Linked DNA regions of Homo sapiens: regions 2 and 3 are each reported to be linked to region 1. The links are microRNA targets in miRTarBase. Many come from high-throughput screens and were not tested one by one. Region 1 holds a microRNA gene; each other region holds the end of a gene's coding sequence.
The links. Region 1 holds the annotated microRNA hsa-miR-1304-5p (UUUGAGGCUACAGUGAGAUGUG, at 3,860-3,881, opposite strand). A microRNA usually pairs through its seed, bases 2 to 8, with sites in the 3' UTR of a target mRNA and lowers its output. Matches are read on the target gene's strand: a 7mer-m8 pairs with bases 2 to 8, a 7mer-A1 pairs with bases 2 to 7 and ends in A, and an 8mer does both.

Region 2: miRTarBase lists FBXW8 as a target of hsa-miR-1304-5p. Seed matches in the 3' UTR shown: 7mer-A1 at 4,602-4,608.
Region 3: the mRNA of SLC45A4 is a reported target of hsa-miR-1304-5p. Seed matches in the 3' UTR shown: 7mer-m8 at 1,523-1,529 and 7mer-m8 at 2,881-2,887.

What each region holds. Positions count from the first base shown.
Region 1 is chr11:93,729,865-93,736,982 of GRCh38, forward strand. MIR1304 (microRNA 1304) reads right to left here and starts at 3,900; the gene lies at 3,810-3,900. CEP295 (centrosomal protein 295) reads left to right here. Exons shown (of 30, transcript NM_033395.2): 28 at 6-105; 29 at 185-284; 30 at 367-494. The coding sequence ends at 405. It overlaps TAF1D (TATA-box binding protein associated factor, RNA polymerase I subunit D), which reads right to left. Exons shown (of 6, transcript NM_024116.4): 5 at 6,830-6,887; 6 at 5,703-6,440. The coding sequence ends at 6,297. It overlaps SNORA25 (small nucleolar RNA, H/ACA box 25), which reads right to left and starts at 782; the gene lies at 649-782. It also overlaps SNORA32, SNORD6, SNORA1, SNORA8, SNORD5 and SNORA18, and 1 more gene.
Region 2 is chr12:117,027,332-117,034,449 of GRCh38, reverse strand. FBXW8 (F-box and WD repeat domain containing 8) reads right to left here. Exons shown (of 11, transcript NM_153348.3): 10 at 6,946-7,056; 11 at 3,302-6,422. The coding sequence ends at 6,278. Among named protein-coding and RNA genes, the nearest start is that of TESC, 69 kb to the left of the region's middle.
Region 3 is chr8:141,205,163-141,212,280 of GRCh38, reverse strand. SLC45A4 (solute carrier family 45 member 4) reads left to right here. Exons shown (of 9, transcript NM_001286646.2): 8 at 1-84; 9 at 584-5,107. The coding sequence ends at 709. Among named protein-coding and RNA genes, the nearest start is that of SLC45A4-AS1, 46 kb to the left of the region's middle. RefSeq lists enhancers at 2,950-3,457, 3,458-3,965 and a silencer at 6,041-6,450.

The sequences.
Region 1 (7,118 bases):
CTCAGGTTCATCTGTGAGTCGTCTAAAGGGCGTGAATAAAGTCAGAGCATCTTTTCCTGAAGACAGAAAGACTACACAGGCTCTAAGGCACCAAAGGGGTCTAAGGTAGGGTTAATTTTTTTTTTTTTTTTAGTGATTCACTTTTTGCAGTGTTTGTCTCTAATTCTATATAAATTCTTTACAGGTTATACAATCAACTAGCTGAAGTGAAACAACAAAAGGAAGAAAAAACAAAACAAGAAGCTTATGCCCAAAACAGAGCAAGGGCAAAAGAATTCCATAAGGTGAGTATAACTGAGGGAGAAGGACTTAATTTTTCAAGCATGAAGTACACAACTGAAACTCAAATTTTTATTCCTTCCACAGAAAACACTAGAGAAACTTCGAGCCAAAAATACATGCTGACTTTCTAGAAATAGTGTAAAGGTTTTTTAATTGTGTATATGTAGCATTAGACAAAATTATTTAAAGTCAATAAATTGTTATTCGAGGAATTCCATGTTGTGATTTCTTCCACTGTCCATCAAGGTCACTTTAGATCCTCTAAAGAGCTGGAGTCAAAAGATTTATCTTCAAGTTTGCCCTGAAGAAGAGAAATTTTGATTAACCTTTAAAACTCTCACATGGCAACAATCCTGGATTATTACGTTTTATATCTCCTCAGGAAAACATAGCACCAAACATTAGGAGTGCTATGGCTTCCTATAGAGAACTTCCATCTTTGGTCACAGCGTTAAGAGCTCTGGGTTTCACAGCCTCATAAGCCCTCTTTGAAATGACCCATACAAATGTCTTTTCTAATGCATACATACCTTTTTAATGAAACTGATCCAGTTGTCCTGTCAGCCCTACATAACAATAGTATAAAAGTAAATTTTACATTTCCAGAGATGAGTGTACAGTGAGTGAACATGAATGAGTCCCTAGAACGAGCCTGAGTTAACTCTACTACAAACTGCTTGGTTATTAGCAACCCACAAGGGTTACAATATAAAGGCAAAGCAAATTTGCATGATTCAAGAGATCTAGGAGAATTTTCAAATCTCACTGATTTTAAAGAAAAATCACATGTGGTTCACATTTTATTTGTATTGCATTTCTATTACAGTTAATCAACTGTTCCCAATAAGCTGATTGCTAGCAAAGTAGCAGATAGAAAACCTACTGGGAAATTTTTTTATGGTCATGTCCACAGCAAATGAGAAACTGCATTCTAAAAGCCTTGGTAATGACCATTACACCCTTGAGCAAATAACTTATAGTTAAGATAAAAACCATTACTTGCCATAATTACTTTGGCTTCTGTCATCTCGTTTTAATATGGATATACTGATGAAGACTTCAAAATTCACCTGTGGAAAAATGTGTATTTCAAATTTATATTTACTATTAAGTACATAAATCTATCTTTCAAGAATGAGGTTGCTTAGGTTCCAAAGTATCCTGAAACCCGGCACCCCAAGTAAGGTATTGAAAATTCTATGCTTAAAATAGCTATTTAAACTAATAGGTATTTTTAAAAATCAATGATCCCATGCCCATTCATATCCGAATTTGCTCTATGATCATGTTTCTGGTAACTTTTACCTTTGAGCTTTTATAATCTTCTGAAATACAATGCAATATTTAATGTAAATGGATGTTCAGAAAGGCCATTTTCATTCAGCCCCTTCAGAGCAGTTGAACATTTCGCCCATCATCATAACATCGTTAATAATGAAGTTTAAACACATAATAACGTAAGCCTAGTCCTTTTTTTTACTCCTAAGTGGTGATAGATGTTGCAATAGCATTGCTAGATAAATAAATAACCTAAAATAACATTTGGAGAAAAGCTAGTATTCAACAAAATAACCTGCATGGCCTTTTAAGTAATGAATTAACTTACCAAGAATCTTTGGGATCTAATTTCTTCAACCAATTTACTTTAGGGTCCTAGAAGTTGAATTGTACAAAGTACAGTTACATTTTGACACCTGATCCAAGACACAGTAATGTATACCACATTACAATGTTTCAGTCAATATACAGCACATAAAAAAAGTGGTCCTATAAGAGCTGAAAATTCCTTATTAAATGTTATTTCTAATATTGAAAAGTCAACATTTTTCTCCTACATTTTTACTCATAAACATAGCAAAATGTTACAGGTCTCATTGTCACCACTGCAATATGCATACTGTGATGGAAGCATAACCTGTCTCAATTTAGCCACATTAACTATTTTTGGACACCATGATCAACAGTGCCCATTCTCTAGAATGAGGCATTGTAAAAGTCTTTAAAGCTTAGTAGTGTATTTGTACGAAGTTCTTGTTATGCTGGCAGTGCTACTGATAGAGGGAAACAAGCAGAATCAATAGAAACAGAGAATCTTACCTTTTTACTGTAGGTGGTGGGGATCTACCTGGTTCTCAATTTGACACCCTGGAAAAAAAAGCATTGCTTACTATTTTAGAGTATATCAAACTGAACACTCTGAGAAACCTACACAAATACTGTATCAGTAGAAATACCAGGTTTAACAAGCACAAAGCCAAGAAAACCAACGATGCCAGATACTGAATTTCTATAGCACTGACCTTTGAACACCCTAGCAGGTGTAAACTGCTGAGTGCAGATACCATGCAGTGCAATTATGACTGAACTGTACAACTCGTATTCCCAAATTTGCAATATTGCTGAGAAATGCTTTCACAAACCTCTCAAATTCCTTTAACAAGTACAATAATTTGAGCTTTTTTCCTAATTGTCACTGTAATAAGGAAGCTACATTAACTACATTTTAAGCTACAACTCTAGTCTTTGCCTAATCTTTGCCCAGTCTCTCTATAAAACTTAAAGATGGAATATATACATGTAACTTAACAGATCAGACAACAAACGTCAAGCTCATTGTTGCTCAAACTGCCAGTTACACAAAATTCTTTTTATGTAATTCATATCCCTATTGATTCAACATATCCACACAGGTTTACGTGACTTTAGGATGAAATATGTGTAACTGCCAGTTGAATAATGATGCAAAGAACACAGGTAGTTTCGTTTGGTAGGTATAGACATGCAGTCTCTTCATTTTCCTTCTCTATACAAATATATACATTGTAATATTTTTGCCAGTATCTTACTAATTCTGTGTTATACCTGAAATACTGGGATGGTGTAATTTCTATTTTTCATCTTTTGAGTCCTTGATTATTATAAGTTAAATATTTTACTTACCTCTCAACATGAATGAGTTCAAATCACATTCATTCCTATAGAAAGTACCAATTAAAGATTTAGAAAGGATACATTTCCAGTTATTAAAACTAAAACCCAAGTATAAATTTAAGATCCAGTTTATTATACAGCCATATCCAGCTCTGTCAGAATTAAGTTTTAGTTCATGCCCGTTATCATTCAGCAGTTGAACAGTTAAATTCATCATCTGAACTGTAATCATTATTTCCCAAAAGATTATACTGTCACCAATTAAAACTTACCTAAGCGATCACTCAAGAATGGTACAGATGTGTGGAGTATGCCAATACCTAAGGTAAAAAAGTAGATTATCTGGTTTTTCATAACGTTTAGCAACCGTCTTTTTCAAACTTTTAGCAACTGTCTTGTAATTCCTTCCCACAGATCTAACAATAGTCCTGTGAGTAAAGTAAAACCACAGAGTTACTCTATGAGGCGTTTCCAACGATGTGCAGGCTACAGGAAAAGCCCCATCGGGATAGACCTCAACCACTATTTACAAGGTTTTGATTTTTTTTTAAAGACACAGGATCTGCCATGTCTTTTAAAAATCGTGTGATTCTTGCTGAATCACTTGAGCCCAGGGGTTCGAGGCTACAGTGAGATGTGGCAGGATCACATCTCACTGTAGCCTCAAACCGCTGGGCTCAAGTGTTTCTCCTGCCTTAGCCTCCAGAGTAGCTGGGGACCACAGGCACCACTGTGTCCAGCTAGTATTTATACACATAAATAACAAAGTCTAACACTCCATAGGAAAGAAATTATGAGCAGAAACTGCAATATGCTCTTACAATATTGCCAACTGCAGAAACTTCCTACTACGTTAATCACAAAAACAATAATTTCACAATCACGTTGTGCTTAGGAGCCAGAGGAATGATAAATAAAAAGTAACATCAAGTAGCTCCTTTACATGAACCAAAGGAAAAAGATTTAAACTTAAGATTTAAGTTTAAAGTCTAACTGTTGTTATGAACTTCAGTATTGCAACAGAGGATGTTGTTTTCCCAATTCGAAGATTTCAGCAAATTTTAATTCTTGGCTCAAAATTAATTGTCATCCATTATAAAATACAGGAATATAATGTGCCTGTAAGTTACGACTTTGGCATTATATAACTTTTAATCAAACTCTACATCATTCAAATTTATGAATTCTTATGACCTGTGTAATCATCTTTTATTATACTATATTTTGCATTAAACCATAAAATCCTCTGCCTCATTTTAGATTGTGCATTAATTCAAAATAATGCTGTAGGCTTCAAGTAGGAAATCCAAAGTTCTGATTATTGCTACAAACTAACAAATTCAGGACCCTCTAATGCTTGCAACTAAAATGAATCTGACACATCACTATAAAATGTGTGAATCTAGGATTCTTCTTTTCAGAAATCAGTATAAATGGGAATTAAAAGCATGGTAGAAATGTCCCTGAATAAAATGAAACTTGCTCTGACAACATACTGTTTCCTACACATAAACAAATATGATGTGAAAACTCAAATTGAGACATACCTTTAACTCCAGACACCATGTTCTCAAGATAAAAGCCTTTAAAACAAAAAGCCATTGTGTATATCATCAACATGAAATTGGAATGCAAAATTAATACTGCTGAGGATTTCCCTCATATCCCATGCTGTTTATCTATTCTACAGGCCTGGAATCAACCTTTTTTTCTTAAGAGACAGGGTCTGTCTTTGTTACTCAGGCTGGAGTACAGTGGTGCCATCAAAGCTCAGTGCAGCCTCCAACTCTGCCTCAGCCTCCCCCCTTTCTGAGTAACTCCAACTACAGGCACATGCCCCAGTACCCAGCTAATTTTTAAATTTTTGTGGAGATGTGTTTCTTACTTTCTTGCCTAGGCTGGTCTTGAACTCCTGGTTTCAAGCAATACTCCCACCTTGGTGTGGGGATTGCAGGCTTGACCCATTGCACCTGGCCTGGAACCAACCTTTATGGCTATCAATACTCCCATCAATCAACTGTCTCAGGTATCATAATATCCCTTCTTATATGTATCAAAACTCATACTGAACAATGAGTTCTGGGTTGCAAAAGAGGATTTATTTTTTGCACCTATCTGTAAGTCTTTGTCCACGTTAAACAAAAACATACATAAGTGCAGTCCCAAAATGCACTACATAGCAGAGTAGTCAGCTCTATCGTGGTGATCAAAATAATGAACATCGGGGTAATGACTGGTTCTCCCCAGGTATACATGTTGAATAAATGTGTATGCCTTTTCTTGAACTAATAAAAAGTGAAAATGGTAGTTAAAAGTAGTATTAGGCCAGGTGCCATGGCTCACACCTATAATCCCAGCATTTTGGGAGGCCAAGGCAGGCGGATCGCCTGAGGTCAGGAGTTCGAGACCATGGTGAAAGCCTGTCTCTACTAAAAAAACAAAAACTAGCTGGGTGTGCTGGCTAACGCCTGTAATCCCAGCTACTAAGGAGGCTGAGGCAGAATCGCTTGAACCCGGGAGATGGAGGTTGCAGTAAGCCAAGACTGCGGCCATTGCACTACAGCCTGGGTGACAGATCGAGACTCTGTCTAAAAAAAATAGTATTAAAGATACTCTAAATTTGGAAAGGGAAATGAGGTTATTACAATACTAAGCATCTGACAGGTCACTTGTCATGGCTGAACAAAGCTGGGATAAAATTACAGCATTTCAAATCCCCTCTTCAAGATGGTTGGGTGTCAAGTTACTTTAAGATTTTCTTTTCAAAATTAAAATCACTACATTTCATTGTTTCAATACTCACAGGACACCTGTAAGCTCTTATTCAGAAATCAAATGACAATTTCTCAAATTTTTCTATGTATTTTCTCTGGTGTTTTAATGGTTTTTTTTCTAATTATTACTACTTCACAAGTTTCTTTCACAAACTTCTTCACAGGGTTAAAAATTTTTTTTCTTGTTATAAAGTTCTGGGTTTCAGAATTTCTTCACCACCAGACTGGTACATATATCCACATTTATCTTTATTCATTTCTATGAAGTCGTTTTTTCTATATGCTTCACCTTTGACATTCATGATCCTGTCACATTTTCAGGCCTCTCTGTCCAGTATTTTTGGCTTTTGTAGCTCTCTTTTTAGACAAAGCAGCTTCTTCAGTAATATCCTCTTCTTCTAAGTATACACTCAGTCTTACAGGGAATTCAGAACTTACTATGAAACTATCCCCCTGCATAAAACAAACAAAAAATCATGGATTAAGCAATAACTCAAATAGTTTAGTAATTACATATAGCTGAATGCCCTGGATTACTTCAGATAACCTAGAGACTACATGTAGATGTTAAAAATCCAAATTAACATTGCTTATTTTTTCATTTGACATCCTAACTAGCAATAATATGTATCAGAATGCTACTTATTAAAAATAGTACTGAAAACCCCATGTTCTTTATCAAGTCTCTAAAAAATTATTTTCCTTCTTGCATTTCCTGCAGTAAACTTATAGAGCTTTTCAAAAGTTAAATGAAGTGTAAGAGAAAAACTAAATATAATTCCTTCTGTATCAACCAACTCCTGCCTTCCCAAAATGGAATAGGAAAAAAATAAGTCACTTACTGCCAATTTGATATCACATTCGTTATCTTCAAGATGTGTTGCATCCTCATCCTCTGCTCTGTAATATTAAAATTTATCATCGAGATGACAGAATCTTCGATGACCTAATTAGTTGTATATTCCACTCTGAAATATAACTGAAACTGCAATACTAGTCAAAGGAAACACAAAATTTGAGAATTTTGTGTTCTGGAGAATTCTAGATGAACGGTGTGCCAAGCTTGGCTCAACTGTAATAATCCCAATTGTCATACTCTGTATCTTTGTTCATTATTTAAGTATAACTATA
Region 2 (7,118 bases), not on the chromosome of region 1:
CACAGGCCGTGGGTGGAGAAGACTGAGCAGGGGCGGCATCCTCAGCCTGCTGGACGCCAGGGGAGGTCACCTCTGTCCATACTCTTCAGCCATCTGCCAGGAATAGAGTCGAAAGCGGGCTGAACTCCTAATATCGCCGTATTACCAAGGGGAAAGGTTGGCTTTTGGATGTTGAAAGAATATGGCAATTTGACACAAACACTCTAATTTGGTTGGTTTACAAAAGGGCCGTGTGATGGAAATGGAATATGAGGAGCTCAGGGGACACACTGCAGCCACGTTAAGCATGAATTATGGATAAGGGAACGGAGTAAGATGACAGCAGCTTCCAGCTCTGGCCAAATACCCGCATAGGGAACGAATTATTGCTAGACTTTAACAAAACAATGCTGTTGTTTTCTGAGCCAAGGGACTGGAAAGTTCTTTTTAAGCTTTGCTAATGGGAGACAGGTCATCTGTGGATCTGATCCTTGTCATGGAGCAGTTGAACCTGTCCCCACCTGCCTGCAGTTAACGAGGCTGCGGCTGAACTCTGCTGTGCTGGAAACGGCGCCGTGTGACTTAAGTAGGCTGATGGAGAGTTAAAAATACAAGTTGCCTTGGCAAGGCTTTTGCAAACACCTGCCTTGCAGGCTGTCCTCCCACACAGCGACCTTGGGAAAGCCAGGAAGAGCTGAGTAGGGGGAGCACCGCACTTCCCGGGGCACTGGCGGCGTCTCTGTCCTCTTGCAGAATTTGCACATGTGGCAATCAGCAGGGGCTTGGTGGTGGACCAGCCTGGTCCTAGGAGGACTCACGACTCTGAGGAGGACGTGGTGGCTGCTCAGCCCTCTAATCTGCTTGTTGACCAAGTCAGCAAGGGACTGGGTTCTAGTCTCCCAGAGGAAGGGCCGGTGCCCCAAGAGTGGCTCTGATGGGGTGGCAGTGGTCAAGGGGCCCGCTGAGGAGGTAGCTGCCACGTCTATCTTAGAGAAACGAAAAGGCAGCGTTTGTCCTAACATTGGGCGAGGGAAGAAAAGACACGGCTTGACAGCTCAGCCTGGGGGGGCTTCCCCTTCCCTTCCTAGGAAAAGACACGGCCCCCAGTGCAGAGCAGTCAAATGGCTGCTTCTGGAAGCCCACGCTGGGCATCAGAGGCCGAAAGTGGGCTGGGGACAACATGGCACCCGCCAGAGCCCAGCAAGAGGGAATCTGCCATCGCACATTAGAGGCAGCCCTTGTCCAAGTCGCCACAGGCCCCTGCAGCGGTAGCCAGGTAACCATCTGGCCCGGCTGCACGGGTGACGTGGGCCGGCCTGTGTGGCTCACAGCACCTCGGCCCGGCCGGCCAGCGCCGTGAGCTCACTGCTGCTGCAGCTGCTGCTCAGAGCGAAGGCTCCGTCAGGCAGTGGGAGACGGCCCTGTTGGAGCCCCTGTGGTGGCCCGCCTGGAATAGCCGCGGGACAGTTGTTACGAGAAGGCTGGACCCTCACCAGGGGAAGCCGTTTCTCAGCAACTGTAAACAAAGTGGGTTTGCGGCGGCCAGTGTCTGCCATCTAACACGTGTGGTGGGAAGCGCTAGCCCCTGAAACGTGGGGCCTCTAGCTCTCAAGAGGGGGTTGGGGGTGAAGGACTTCATCTTGGGGGTGTCAGCCTTTCCTTTCAGAAAGGACCAAGCCCTCTCTTGGGGAAATTCAGTTTCCCTCCGATCAGCTGAAACCCTAGCGTTCAGCCGGCGCAGGGAGTTGTGCTTGGTAGGAGAAGGTGATGCCGTCCCTGGAGTATCTCTGAAACATAAATTATTGCCTGGGCAACAGCAGCACCAGGGTGGCACATGGCTTGGGTTACAAAACACACTCTAGTGGCAGAGATGAAATTCTCAGGGGGGCTGTAGTCCCTTGGAGAATCTGATGCGAGGTAACCACGCTTTTTCCCAGAAAATGCCCTCATGCACCATTTCACACACAGTGGGTCCTTGAATAGCATCGTTTTATTCAATGTCATTTTGTTATAACATTGAGAAAAAAATTGATTCCCGGCTGGGGCCACTGTCTGTGCACCGTCTAGACGTCCTCCCGGTCGGAGAGCTTTCTGGGCACTCTGGTTTCCTCCCACGCCCCAAAGATGTGCAGGTGAGGTTTGTTGGTGTCTGGTCGCAGTCTGAGTGTGTGTGGGGGGTGAGTGTGCCCTGTGATGGGAGGGCATCCTGTCCAGGGTGGTCCCTGCCTTGCACACTGAGCTGTTGGGATAGGCTCTGGTCGCCCACCACCTTAAACTGGAATAACTGAGTTGGAAAATGAAAGAAGGAATGAATAAAAAATTATTGTAAAATAAAAATTGCCTCCCATAACCATACAAATGCACAATAGTAAATGACGCTGTACGGAAGTGCCCAGTGAGCCCGTTCATTCTGGTGTTTGACCTGCGTGGTGGAAGGAGGCGCTCCTGACAATTTTTGCTTTGCAAACATTTATTCTGTGATATAACTCACCATCGCTGCAACTGCCAGCACTCAGAGTCACCAAAAATTGGGTAATTATCTTGTTTTTAGTAATTTTTCTTAAATGTATGTATAACTAACTCATGTCTATTTAATGTTTAATATTAGAAGTGTTTGGTTTAAAGTTCTAAAGTTTGGTGAAGTTTTTATGGCCAGCAATATGCCGTGGGAACTTAACTCTTGTTTACATCCATTAGCCTATAGTAAAATTAGTTTCATTATATATCATTTTGCTTAAAGTTGCCATTTCTTTTTTTGAGACGAAGTCTCGCTCTGTCGCCCAGGCTGGAGTGCAGTGGTGCGATCTCAGCTCACTGCAACCTCTGCCTCTTGGCTGCAAGCGATTCTCCTGCCTCAGCCTCCCGAGTAGTTGTGATTACAGGCACACGCCACCAGGCCTGGCTAATTTTTGTATTTTTAGTAGAGATGGGGTTTTGCCATGTTGGCCAGGCTGGTCTTGAGCTCCTGACCTCAGGTGATACGCCTGCCTCGGTCTCCCAAAGTGCAGGGATTACAGGCCTGAGCCACCTTGCCCAGCCAAAATTAGTTTCATTATACCTCATTTTGCTTAAAGTTGTAGTTTCTAAGAAAACCTATTGATGACGGTTGGTGAAGAGTTACTGTACCATGTTGCGGGTCTCCTGGATCCTGGGCTGGGAGCGCCTGTAGGGGAGGTTCTGGGCAAATCCAATTGACTGTGGGTTTACAAAACCACCACGGTGGGAGGTAAGATTTCAAGGGGGTGGGAAGAGCTGGAATCGTGGCATGCCAGGGGATTATCACTGTATGCCTTGCCCAAGTTAAAATAACTTGACCAATAAAGAAATTCAAAGCATTTAATATTAGAACAACTACGGACATCATAAAGCAGAAAGCAAGTCCGACAGTGTTTTGAGAGGCGATATGAGATCTTCAGGTGTTTCACCATCCAGCTCCCCTGGCAGCATGCTCGAGTATCTTCTACCTTTAGGGGAGCCGGGGATGGAGGCGTCCCTGAGAGGGACTAAAGAAGGAAAGTAGAGGATCAATTGGCTAAAAACTCAGAACTTGTTTGTGAAAGGGTCTGGATAAAGGTAAGGGGGCTTAATTTGGATACATGTTGGCTTATAAAGGAGCATTTATCCTTTCCCTGTCAGTGTGATTGATTCCAGGATGTGGAGGTTTGCAGTAGAAAACACTGCCTGAAGTTGGCGTGCTTGAAGATGACAGCTTGAGTCCAAAAAATTCTCCTTTACAAAACCCAGGCGACTTCCACGAATGGCAGGTACGTTAGAAACAGGCTCTGCGGTGGGAGGGGCTACACTTGGGACATTTTTACACTGGGCCAGCTGCTGGCTGCTCTAATTCTGGGTCTAATGACTTTACACTCCGTTATCTTTAATTGCTGCAAACTAGGAAGGGCGAATGCGCCTGCAAAATGAACTGGGAACGCAGACTGAAGGGGCTGCTTTTTGAAAAGAAAAATATTTTCCCCAGTGGTCCAGACGCATTAAGACTATGAGAGAGAAAGGGCGGGGCTTGATGAAAACCTTCTAAAGCGAGGCCACCAGCGAGCAGTCTGACCACCACATGACATGATGAAAGTAAACAAAATCCTGCATTTGCTACCTACAGGCCATCTCCACTTAGGAAGTTATCTGGTTGAAAGGAAGCAGAAAACCCTCCGGTCCATCTGCCTGCAGGTAGGCAGGGTCTGAAAGAAAGCGCTCTGGACGGGAAGGTGACGCTTCCCAGTCGCAGCTCTATCTGCTCCGTTCCCCTGTGTAGTTGGAGATGAATATGGAATGGCTGCGTATCTTAAGCAATCTGAAAAACCTTCCAGAACCTTCATGACGTGAAGGTTCTAGGCTTTGGAGTAATGGCAAGCACTTCCCACTGATACGTACACGTGTGCAACTGAGAGGACTCGGTTTTCTCTGGAATGAGTGTGGACAAACGGTTCCCATGTGGTAGGTACTTCTGCATCCTCAGGTACCTTTTCTCTTCCTCATAGACCACTGTACCTTTATGTTTTATCAAGAGTTGTATATTTTGTCTTTTTTTTTTTTAAACTGCTTTTGGGCTGGGTACAGTGACTTACACCTGTAATCCCAGCACTTTGGGAGGCTGAGGCAGGCAATCATTTGAGGTCAGAAGTTTGAGACCAGCCTGGCCAACATAGCAATATCCCCCGTCTCTACTAAAAATGTAAAAATTAGCCAGTTGTGGTAGCGGACGCCTGTAATCCCAGCTACTCAGGAGGCTGAGGCAGGAGAATTGCTTGAACTCGGGAGGCAGAGGTTGCAGTGAGCCGAGATCAGGCCATTGCACTCCAGTCTAGTCTAGGTGACAGAGCGAGACCCCACCTGAAAAAAAACAAAACCTTCTGGCTTTATATTAACTAACTATTGGTTTTCGATTCCACTGATGTCTGTTTTTATCCTGATTTAACCCCTGCCTTCTGCTGCTTTGGGATTGCTGCTACCTTTTCTGAGCTGAGGTGCCAGCCCCTCACAGCCCCTCCCAGCCCCATCCCCTGGGTTTTGTATTCTGTGCTTTTACTGTCAGCCCAGTCTAGAGAGTTTATAGTTTGTTTTTATTAACCTCTTTAAATCCAAGTAAATTCAGGAGTGTCTGGAATTGTCTTATTTTGCTTTTTGTTGATTTCTCACTATTCTGCATTGGAGTCAATTCCTAGAAAAGCAGGGCCCTGCCTGAGGGTATAGCCCATAGGGTGCAGTGTCTTGGGGTTGGGGGATTCTATAATTTGGCCTGTATGGTGTGAATCTTTGTGCATCTGAGCTGTTCTTTGTGGCCTTCGTACAGGGTGGTTTTTTGTGCATCGTCTATGTGTATTTGAAATTCCATACGCATCTACTGGATCCAGCTTGTTAGCGATACTAAGTAAATCCTCCAGATCTTTACATTTTTCTCACTGATTTGCCTGCCGTGAGAATGGATTTTATTTCTCTTTGTAGTTCTATCAGTTTTCGCTTTGATATTCTGAAGGTATATTAGGTGGATGCTGTTGCTGTTTAGAACTGTTGAAAATCAAGAGTAAGGCAATGGCTTGCTTCCAGAATACTTTGGAAATGGCAGCTCTGTATCACACTGAACAGTTCTCTCCTGTCCTGTTTCATCTTGATGGCTGTTTAGTCAATGAATATTTAGAAAATATTTGCTTTGTATCACATATCATAGACACAATAGTAAGCAAAATAGTCATTGATGACTAAACTGTATAAGTATATAATTATAAACCATGGTAAAAGCTGTGAAGAAAAAGTACAGCTCTACCAGCTTGCTACTGGAAGGTGGTGGTGGCAAGTGTCACAGAAGAGCACCCCAAGTAAATACAGGGAAAAGGACATGGAGGTTATTGCCTTGGAGGCCAGGAACAAGCACATCCAAAGGCCCTCGGAGGAAAAGAGGTAAGGGGCTGGAGACGGAAAAGACGGCCTGCAGGGCTGGAGCTGGGAGGGCGGACACACAGAAGCTGGCTAAGCAGGGACCGTATAGGACCGCGCAGCGAGATCCCTGAGGCGTCCTGAGGGAGCTGAGGCCAGGGTGGCCAGCTGGGTGGGGAAGGAGGCTATGTTTGAGTTGGCAGCACGTGGGACTCGAGCCCTGGCACACGCCAGCTTGCCCCAGGCGCTGGGGGAAGTGCAGGGGTCAGGGAGATGCGTGCTGTCAGGCATGGCACCCTGGGCTGCTTTCTTCCCCTAAATGTTTACCACCTGTGAAGAGGTGCCTGGCGTTTTAAGATGGATAAAACTGGTTCTTCCCATTTTTCTCCTTGCTCCCAACTGAGGCACATCCCTAAACATGGTTATAGGGAAAGGCCAGTGCGAGGTCGTAGTAGTGAGTGGCCATGGCGTCACAGGATGAACGGCAGACAGGGAGAGGGCTCTGGAAGGCCAGCTGGTCCACCGCAAACTCATAGGCGCGGATCAGCCCCCGGTGTCTAGAAAGAGCACAAAGATGGTGACAGGTCAGGGCTGCCTCGCTGGCCCTCACCCCAGCCGCTTCTGTCTGTGCAGGAGGCGTTCGCCTGAGACCAGATAGAGGTTCAGCTTCACAAACGCGTTCTCTGGGCACACAGCGTCAGATACTCACAGTCCCCGGCTTAGCGGTCAACGTGGGGGTGCACAAGTCCGATGGGCGCAGTGAGTGTCACAGGGCAAGGACTCAAGAGGGCGGGCCTTGCCCCTGACAGGATTCTAACCACAGCAGGCCCCTCAGCATACGGCTTGCCCTCCCTCTCTGTACAGCCGACAGCGTGGACTCGCCCCACGGGGCTGTCCTGCATCAGATGCTGGGTGCTCAGTACAGGTCAGCATCCACGTTTATGTTTCCAATTCGCAGAAAGGCAGGGCCCTGCCTGAGGGTATAGCCCATAGGGTGCAATGTGTCACGGCGGGGGGGGTGGGGTTCTATACATCAGTCAAACTAAGATGGTCTCTTACTCGCCCGGCCCCACCACTAACCTCCTGTGAGTAGTGAAGCTGTCCAGGTCGGCGTTTCGCATTACCGTCTGGTAAGGCACGTTGGCCGTGATGAGGCTGTGGCTGCTGAATGAGATGTGCTGCACCGGGTGCCTGGAAGGCAGTGGGAGAGAGCTCGTAAGGGGGCGTCCACTGGGCCTGCACTTGCTGCCGCA
Region 3 (7,118 bases), not on the chromosome of region 1:
GCCGGTGGGAACAGCGAAAAGCCCACCGTGCTGAAGCTCACGCGGAAGGAGGGCCTGCAGGGACCGGTGGAGACAGAGTCCGTGGTCTGAGCCGCACTCCCGTTTACACACATTCCAGTGGGCGGGTGGGCGGGCGGGCGGGCGGCGGGGCCAGGCCATGGGCGGGAGCAGAGACACCGCGGAACCCTGCAGATGCTGTGGCCGACCCGGCAGTGCGGGCCAGAGCCCCTCCGCCCCCATAGCCACAATTCAGTAGTCGTAGGGTAGGTTTGAGCTACTAAGCAAATACCACACTAACCACTTTTTCGATAATTAAAAGAATCATTTGAAATATTTTTTTTAATTGAAAAAGATATTTTAATTTCAGCTCTTTTATTCTGCAGGTGTATTATTCTGCATGTTTTTAAATGATATAAAACATTTATATAGACAATAAGCAACTTAGAAAAAATAAGATTTTGCATTTCTAAAATTATAATTGAAAACAAAATCTGACATTCTCTGCTAAGTCTTATCTGAATGCTTCAGATAATGGTAGTGTAGTCAGTGACTAAAATATTTTTATCAAATTTCCTCTCTGTAGACGCCTGCAGGTATTGACGTCTGTCAGATCTCGTCACATTGGCTGGTGCCGCAGCTGTTGGAGAGTATTTTTCTTTATGATTATTTTAGAAAAAAAATTTTCTTTTCCACAATGTGGTTCTCTTAGAAGAATGACGTATCTTCTTTTCCTCAGCGAGTTGGACACATTGTGCCCAGGGCAGCCCTGTCCTTGGGCAGCGACCGCACACCAAAGCTGGGAGGAGGCTGGTCCGGGGGGCCTGGGCAGAAGACAGTGATTTGCAGGGGTGGCTCCCAGACACCCTGCCCAGGGATGGGCTGGGCACCACCTGGGGGCGGAGCGTGAGCTCCAGACGAGCTCCTGCGTGCGCGTGTGAGTGTGTCTGCGCCCAGCCATGTGACCCCGCTCGTCCCGTCTGAAGGACTCTCCTAGGAGGCCAGGTTGCCCCTCCAGACCGCTCCCAACGTCAGGGGGAAGGAAACGTTGACTTTCACTGCACTTTGATTCGTCTCTAAACCATTTGCTGGGGATTCCTGAGAGCAGAGCTCCCAGCGGGCCCTGCCTCCCAAGTCCCGCCGCAAGGCTACCTCGGGTGTGTGGATGTGCGAGGGCCTCCCCCGCTTGCGAAGGGGACATGCGTGCTGGAACCTGTCGGAACTCCATGCCTTCCTCGCCTGCTCACCTGCTCGACGCTGGAATCGGGACAGGTGCAAAGGGACGCAGACGTCTGGGACAGCTAAGGCCCGTGTCACCGGAGGGCTCCGCACAGTCGTTCTGGTTTCAACGAATAAGCAAAACTCGGGCAAGTACTGCAGCTATTTGGAAATGTTTTCCAAACCACAGTCTCTTTAGAACTAAGCCTATTTGAAACGGTCGGTGTAGGCTTACTGAGATCAGGAGACAGGGAGGCCCCGCACATCACACAGATAAAGTCAGACAATTGTAATTAATACTTTTGCTGCCTCAAGTTGTTTTTTAAATAAAGTACTTTGAAATGCATGAGAATCATGCTGCAATATGATCATTCTAGAGCAAATATATATATACACGTATATATATTTCAAGATGAAACTAAAGCAGTTTTTAAATAAATTACTTGAATTTTCTGTGTATTTAAAGGAACGACTGTTTAATGTACTTGATGGGCCTCTGGTCTTGCCGTGTCTCCTGCCGCTGGTGGCACTTTGTAGATTGTGTGTTTGTGTCCGGGTGGCAGTTGGGTACCTGCTCACGCACGGTGTGTCTGCCAGGCCACGGTGTCCCAGGATCGCAGAGGGCTGACTTTCAAGACTTCAAGAACATTTTCTGGATGTGTGGAAACTTGAGAATGGCCTTGTGAATCTCGTGCTTGGACAGGGCAAGTCCGACTACTGAAAGTGCTGCCAGCTTTGCTGCGAGCCCTCCGGCCAGCGGGAGCCCCGTGGGCTGGGCACTGTGGCCCTTCTTCTCTGGGGGACGGCACCCCTGGCTTCCTCACCTCGGCCGGGCGTCCGTGGCAGCTCACTCTATGCAACTTGATCCTCTAGCGGCTTTAAGACTGTAGATCCCCTCTCTGAGACCTGGCTGTACTTGTCAGGATCTCGAGGCGCAGCTCCCGTCTTAGCTGGTTTCTCCGGCTTCTCGTCCTGACGACTATAAAACAGTTGGAGGCAAGAAAGCAGCGGATGTGGGGTGGCAGTGGCCTGACCCGAATCAAGATCCGACCCAAACCACACCAAATGTGGGTTCATCTGGGGGCCACCCCTTGCCTGAGGCTTCCCACCCTCATCTGAAGGCCCAGGGGCCGGATCCAGGGCTCACCAAAGCCGATTCCTCGCCAGCTGGGAGTGCAGAAGTCTCAGGGCCTGGCTGCGACTTGATTTTTAGGAGGAAGAGGGGCTTCGCAACCCCCCTCTGAATAGTGTGTTAACCCTTGAGATCCCAGCCTCGACTAATCTGAAGTAAGGACAACAAAGGCCATTCAGTGCCCTCCACATGGCCTTGCCACAGTCACTGTCAGGGTATGAACGTGCCGGAAGCCAGTGCCAGCCAGGGACAGGCGTGACTGTTGTGTGCTCCTCGGTGACAGGAGTCGGTGGCTGCACACTTTGTAGACTCGTCAAGCTGTCAGCACTTCAGGTGTTTGCAAGCAAAGCCCTTCTTAGTGTGCAGGTCAGTGTGCAGAGCCCAAATGAGGGGACCGCAGGGGCTGGGGTCCAGGGTCAGTAGAGTCGGTTTCTGGAGCTGCCTTCCTGGGAGGCAGGTGTGGGTGACCGGGGCTCTGGCGGTGCGTGTGGGCCCGGCCTGGCCACAGCGGGGACCAGGTCACGACATCTTTGGCCTCAACCCCTCCCCTGCACTGAGATTATTTCCAGATTGCACTCACTTGAAACCGTCCGTGTCGTCACCTTGTGTCTTAAGGGAAGCCGAGAAGAAGGGCAGACGGGCAGGCTGTCTTGTCTGCAAAGCGCCATTGCGCCCGCAGCTTGTGTGGGTCAGGCTGCAGCTCGGGTGTCTGTGGCTTCTAACCTTGTACCTCAGACGGATGCAGTAACAAGGCGGGGCTGGGGACGCCGGTCAGTGTCAAAGGGGAGGTGCTCTGGCTGATAGCCTTGCCCGAGAGGGACGAGGAGGCCGTGCGGGTGCCCCCTGGGGAAGCTGGCCAGCCATCCAGTGCTGAGGACGCAGCTGGAGTTGGGCTCGTGGCACCCTTGGGGTGTGGGCTGTGCAGGCTGGTGGCCTGGGTGCCTCTGCACACTGAGTGGAGTGTCAGGCAGGGTGTGTCGGTTGGTCGAGTCTTGTGTAATGTGCGCAGACCAGTTACCAAACTAGGATAATGTTGGTCTCATTTGTGGTGGTTTTGTTCCCTATACAAGTCAGCTAAGTAAAGACTCTTTTAACGAGCTTCCCCTTAACACATGGCAGAAGTTTCCAGGTGCAGGAATGCGAGCTGGCGGGAAGGGGCAGAGGCCGTGAGCTCTCAGCTGGGCCGGCCTGCCTGTGTCCCCTTTCCTGGGTCTGTCGGCAGACTGGCATCATGACGTTCCCTGGTGGCTGAAGAGCTAGCTTTGGAGTGTTGTTTTTCTCACTCTCAGGCAGGGGCCTTAGCTGGAATCCTCCAACCTGCCACTGAACACGTCAGTGCTGTGTGCTGCCTCTTGGACACCTGCCCTTGAAAGCCTCAGGCCCCTGGGAGAAGCACTCTGTCCAGTCCTGTCCCCGGGGGGGAGGCAGGGCCACTGAGCCCTCCTCAGATGGTTAGTGGCTTCCAACAGCCATCAGGAGTGTTTCTTGAATGCCCCAGGTGTGGAGGACTTGGTCTGTGACCACCTAGAACCCCAGAGCTGAACAGGAAGCCGTCCCTGCAGCAACAAGAGGGCTGGAAGGGGGAGCTGCAGGCCACCCTCGGCTCTCCCACTGCTGGGGCGGTGATGTTCGGGTGACATGTTTGAAAAATACTCTTAAAGATACCAACTGTTCCCTTATATGGCTAATGGTTTGTGCAGCCACCAGCGATGGCGGCCCCTATTAGAGACCAGGTTTGTTAAAACACCAAATATTGCTGTCCACACTAGACATTAACCGGCTTCAGAAAAGATGGACACCTTTTCCCACGCTGTTTCGCTTCTTAACTTTGGTCCAGCTTTAGCCACCACACAGCGTGTGAGGGACTGCTGCTGCGGAGTCAGCCTCGTTTGTCCCTCCGCCTCCCACCAGCACGCGCCGCTTCTGAGAGACACCAGCTCCCTGCCTCCAAGCCTGGTGCCACAGGCCTGTCGTGAGGGACCCCTGCTTCCGAGAGCTCCTGGGGGGGTTCTGCCCTTCACCACCTGGGAGAGGTGTCAGTTCAGTTCCGAGTTGAACAAGGCCCGTGCACACAGCATGTTGGGGGCCCAGCCCAAAGTTCTTGTCACCTCCTCATGCAAAGCCAGCCATCACCCTCCGGCCAGAGCTCAAGGTGGCCCCTTGGCCAGCCCCTCCTTGGGTCCTCCAGGAGGACTGAGCACCCCTCCTAGCGGCATCCCTTGCCCTCCACAGTGCTGCCAGGGGCACGTCGCTCTGTGCCGTGGACTGAGACCATCCCCTGGTGACAGAATGACCCGTTTGTTGGAAATGCCTCGTTGCCAGAGAAACTCCCCAGGCATCTCGGAACGAAACTATTTAGTTCCATTGTGAACTGGCCACGGGACAGCTTTTTATCAACTTATTAAGTTGGAGCACTGTAATCGCGCTTGCTGAGTTAGCAGTGGTGGTAAGCGTGTGTTAAACACATAATGTTACGTTTTAGGAGAGAGAGGTCGTAAGGAAGTGTCGTGTCGCTCATGACTCTCTTCTATTAGTTGGGTAACAGTGGCCTCATGTTTGTGTCTGTGTGTACACAGAGCCCTTAGGTTCTGCTCTGTTTCTTTGCCAGGTGAATGTTTGTGGCATGCGCTGCTGTCCGCGCCCCTCTGTCCTGCGCAGGGTTCAGCTGTGCGGCGCCCTGATTTCCTCCATGCACACAGAACCTCCTTGTGTCTGTTTCTCTGTTCCTCTGTGGCTGACTCAATAAACTTTTCCCTCTGACATGATGATGTGGGTGTGTCTGTCACTTCCCTGTGGCCTCCTGCCCTCTGCCTTCCTGGAGCCTGGTGGGTCTAGTGGGCTGTCTGAGGCCTGCGGAGGGGAGCTGGGCCCAAGTACCAGAGCATTTGCTTCCCAGAGGGCCGCCAGCTGGCAAATCCGGGGCCTGTCCCTGGAACCCACACACAGGCCCACTCAGGTGGGGTTGAGGCCTGGGCCTTCTGCAGGCCTGTTCTGGTGGAGCCGGGGTGGGGCCCGCGGTCTACCTCTGCTGAAGGGTCCCTGACTGTCCCTGGAGCCAGTGTCTTAAGGAGGCAGCCTGCTTGCTGTTGCTGCCAGCAGGAGGGGCCACGCTGGGCTGAGGACGGGGTGGCCCGGTGTGTGCACCTGGCTTTGGCGCCCCAGGGGACATATGGGGTCCTGGGGCGGCTGGAAGAGCGCTCCATTGACCTTCCTACAGGCAGAGTGAGTCATCTCTGTCCTCTGGCACCCCACTGAGGGCTGTGACTGGCAGTTGGCAGTGGAGGAAATGAAAGGGAGGGGACTTGCCCCGGGTTACCCAGCTGCTGGGGTTTGAATCCGGAAGCAAGTTTTCTTCAGTGGCTCTTCTGATTTGTGGGGCGTGGAAGGGGTCCCAGCAGGGCCGGGGTGTGGAGTAGAAGGGATCTGCTCAGACGAGGGAGAAAGGGACGAGGGACTTTGATAGTTGGGGGGTGTCACCACGGGGCTCCTGGATGGGACCTGCGCAGTTGGGGGCCCACGGAAGCCAGGAACCTCCGGACCTGGGGACAAGTCCCAGCTGGGCCACTCTGGCGCTGTTACCTGGGCGCCCTGCTGCAAAACGCAGGCTGATGGCCCTGTGGTGGGGACTAAAGGGATGGTCGCTGTCCTTCGGCCAGACGGGAGTGGGGCGGTGAGCCAGGGCCGCCCAGACTCTGCACCCAAGACCCCATTTGCCATCTGGGACCCTGCCTGGCGCCCTGGCTGACGCGAGCCCGCGGCATCCCCTGTCGTCCACCCGGTGCGTGCGGCCCCGCCATGTCCCGCCCCGCCGTCCCTGGCAGGGAGGGGCTGTGGAAGCCTCCGCCCACCACGGCACGCCCGGCACCCCCAGACTCGTGGCTGGGCTTTGGGAACACAGGTGGAGGCCCAGGGCGCGGAGGGCGGCGGGACCCAAAATCCAGGCGCTTCCCTCCCAGGTGGGGGAGGCAGCGAGCGAGAACAGCTTCCTGCAGGGGACGCCCGGCCACCGCGCCGCAATCCCGCCGCGGCCACAGAGACGCTCCCCGCCCCTGGACAGGCCTGAAGCAGTGGGAGCCCGAGACGCTGGGAGCCCCGCACCCCGGTGGCCGCCCGGGGCCCAGTGCCTGTGGGCGGGGAGGCGGAATCGACACCCCACCAGGACCCCCGCCCTCGGGTGGTGGGCGGCCGTGACGGCGGCGCAGGGGCCAGGGGCGTGTGTTCCCCCGCCCGCCTCACCTGGCGCGCGGGTGCCTGGCCCACCTGAGCGAGCACCAGACCTGCACCCCGCCAACCAACGCTCCCCCCGAGCGACCAGGCTAGGAGGGAACACCCGGTGCTGCGCCCCTTTCCTGGCCTTTCCCCAGGATGCTCACCAAGGATGAGCCCTGCGTGCCCAGCGGCCATCACGGGGCAAGAAGAAGTCGCCAAGACAGAGAATCAGTGACCCAGGCCTCCCAACCCGGTCTTTGTTCGTTTTTGAGACGGAGTCTCACTTTGTCACCCAGGCTGGAGTGCAATGGTGCGACCTCAGCTCACCGCAACCTCTGCCTTCCAGGTTCAAGCGATTCTCCCACCTCAGCCTCCCGAGTAGCTGGGATAATTGACGCCCGCACCCGGCTAATTTTTGTACTTTTAGTAGAGGTGGGGGGGTCTCACCATGTTGGCCAGGCTGGTCTCGAACTCCTGACTCAAGTGATCTGCCCGCCTCGGTCTCCCAAAGTGCTGGGATTACAAGCGTGAGCCACCGCGCCCGGCCCGTCTTCACATCTTT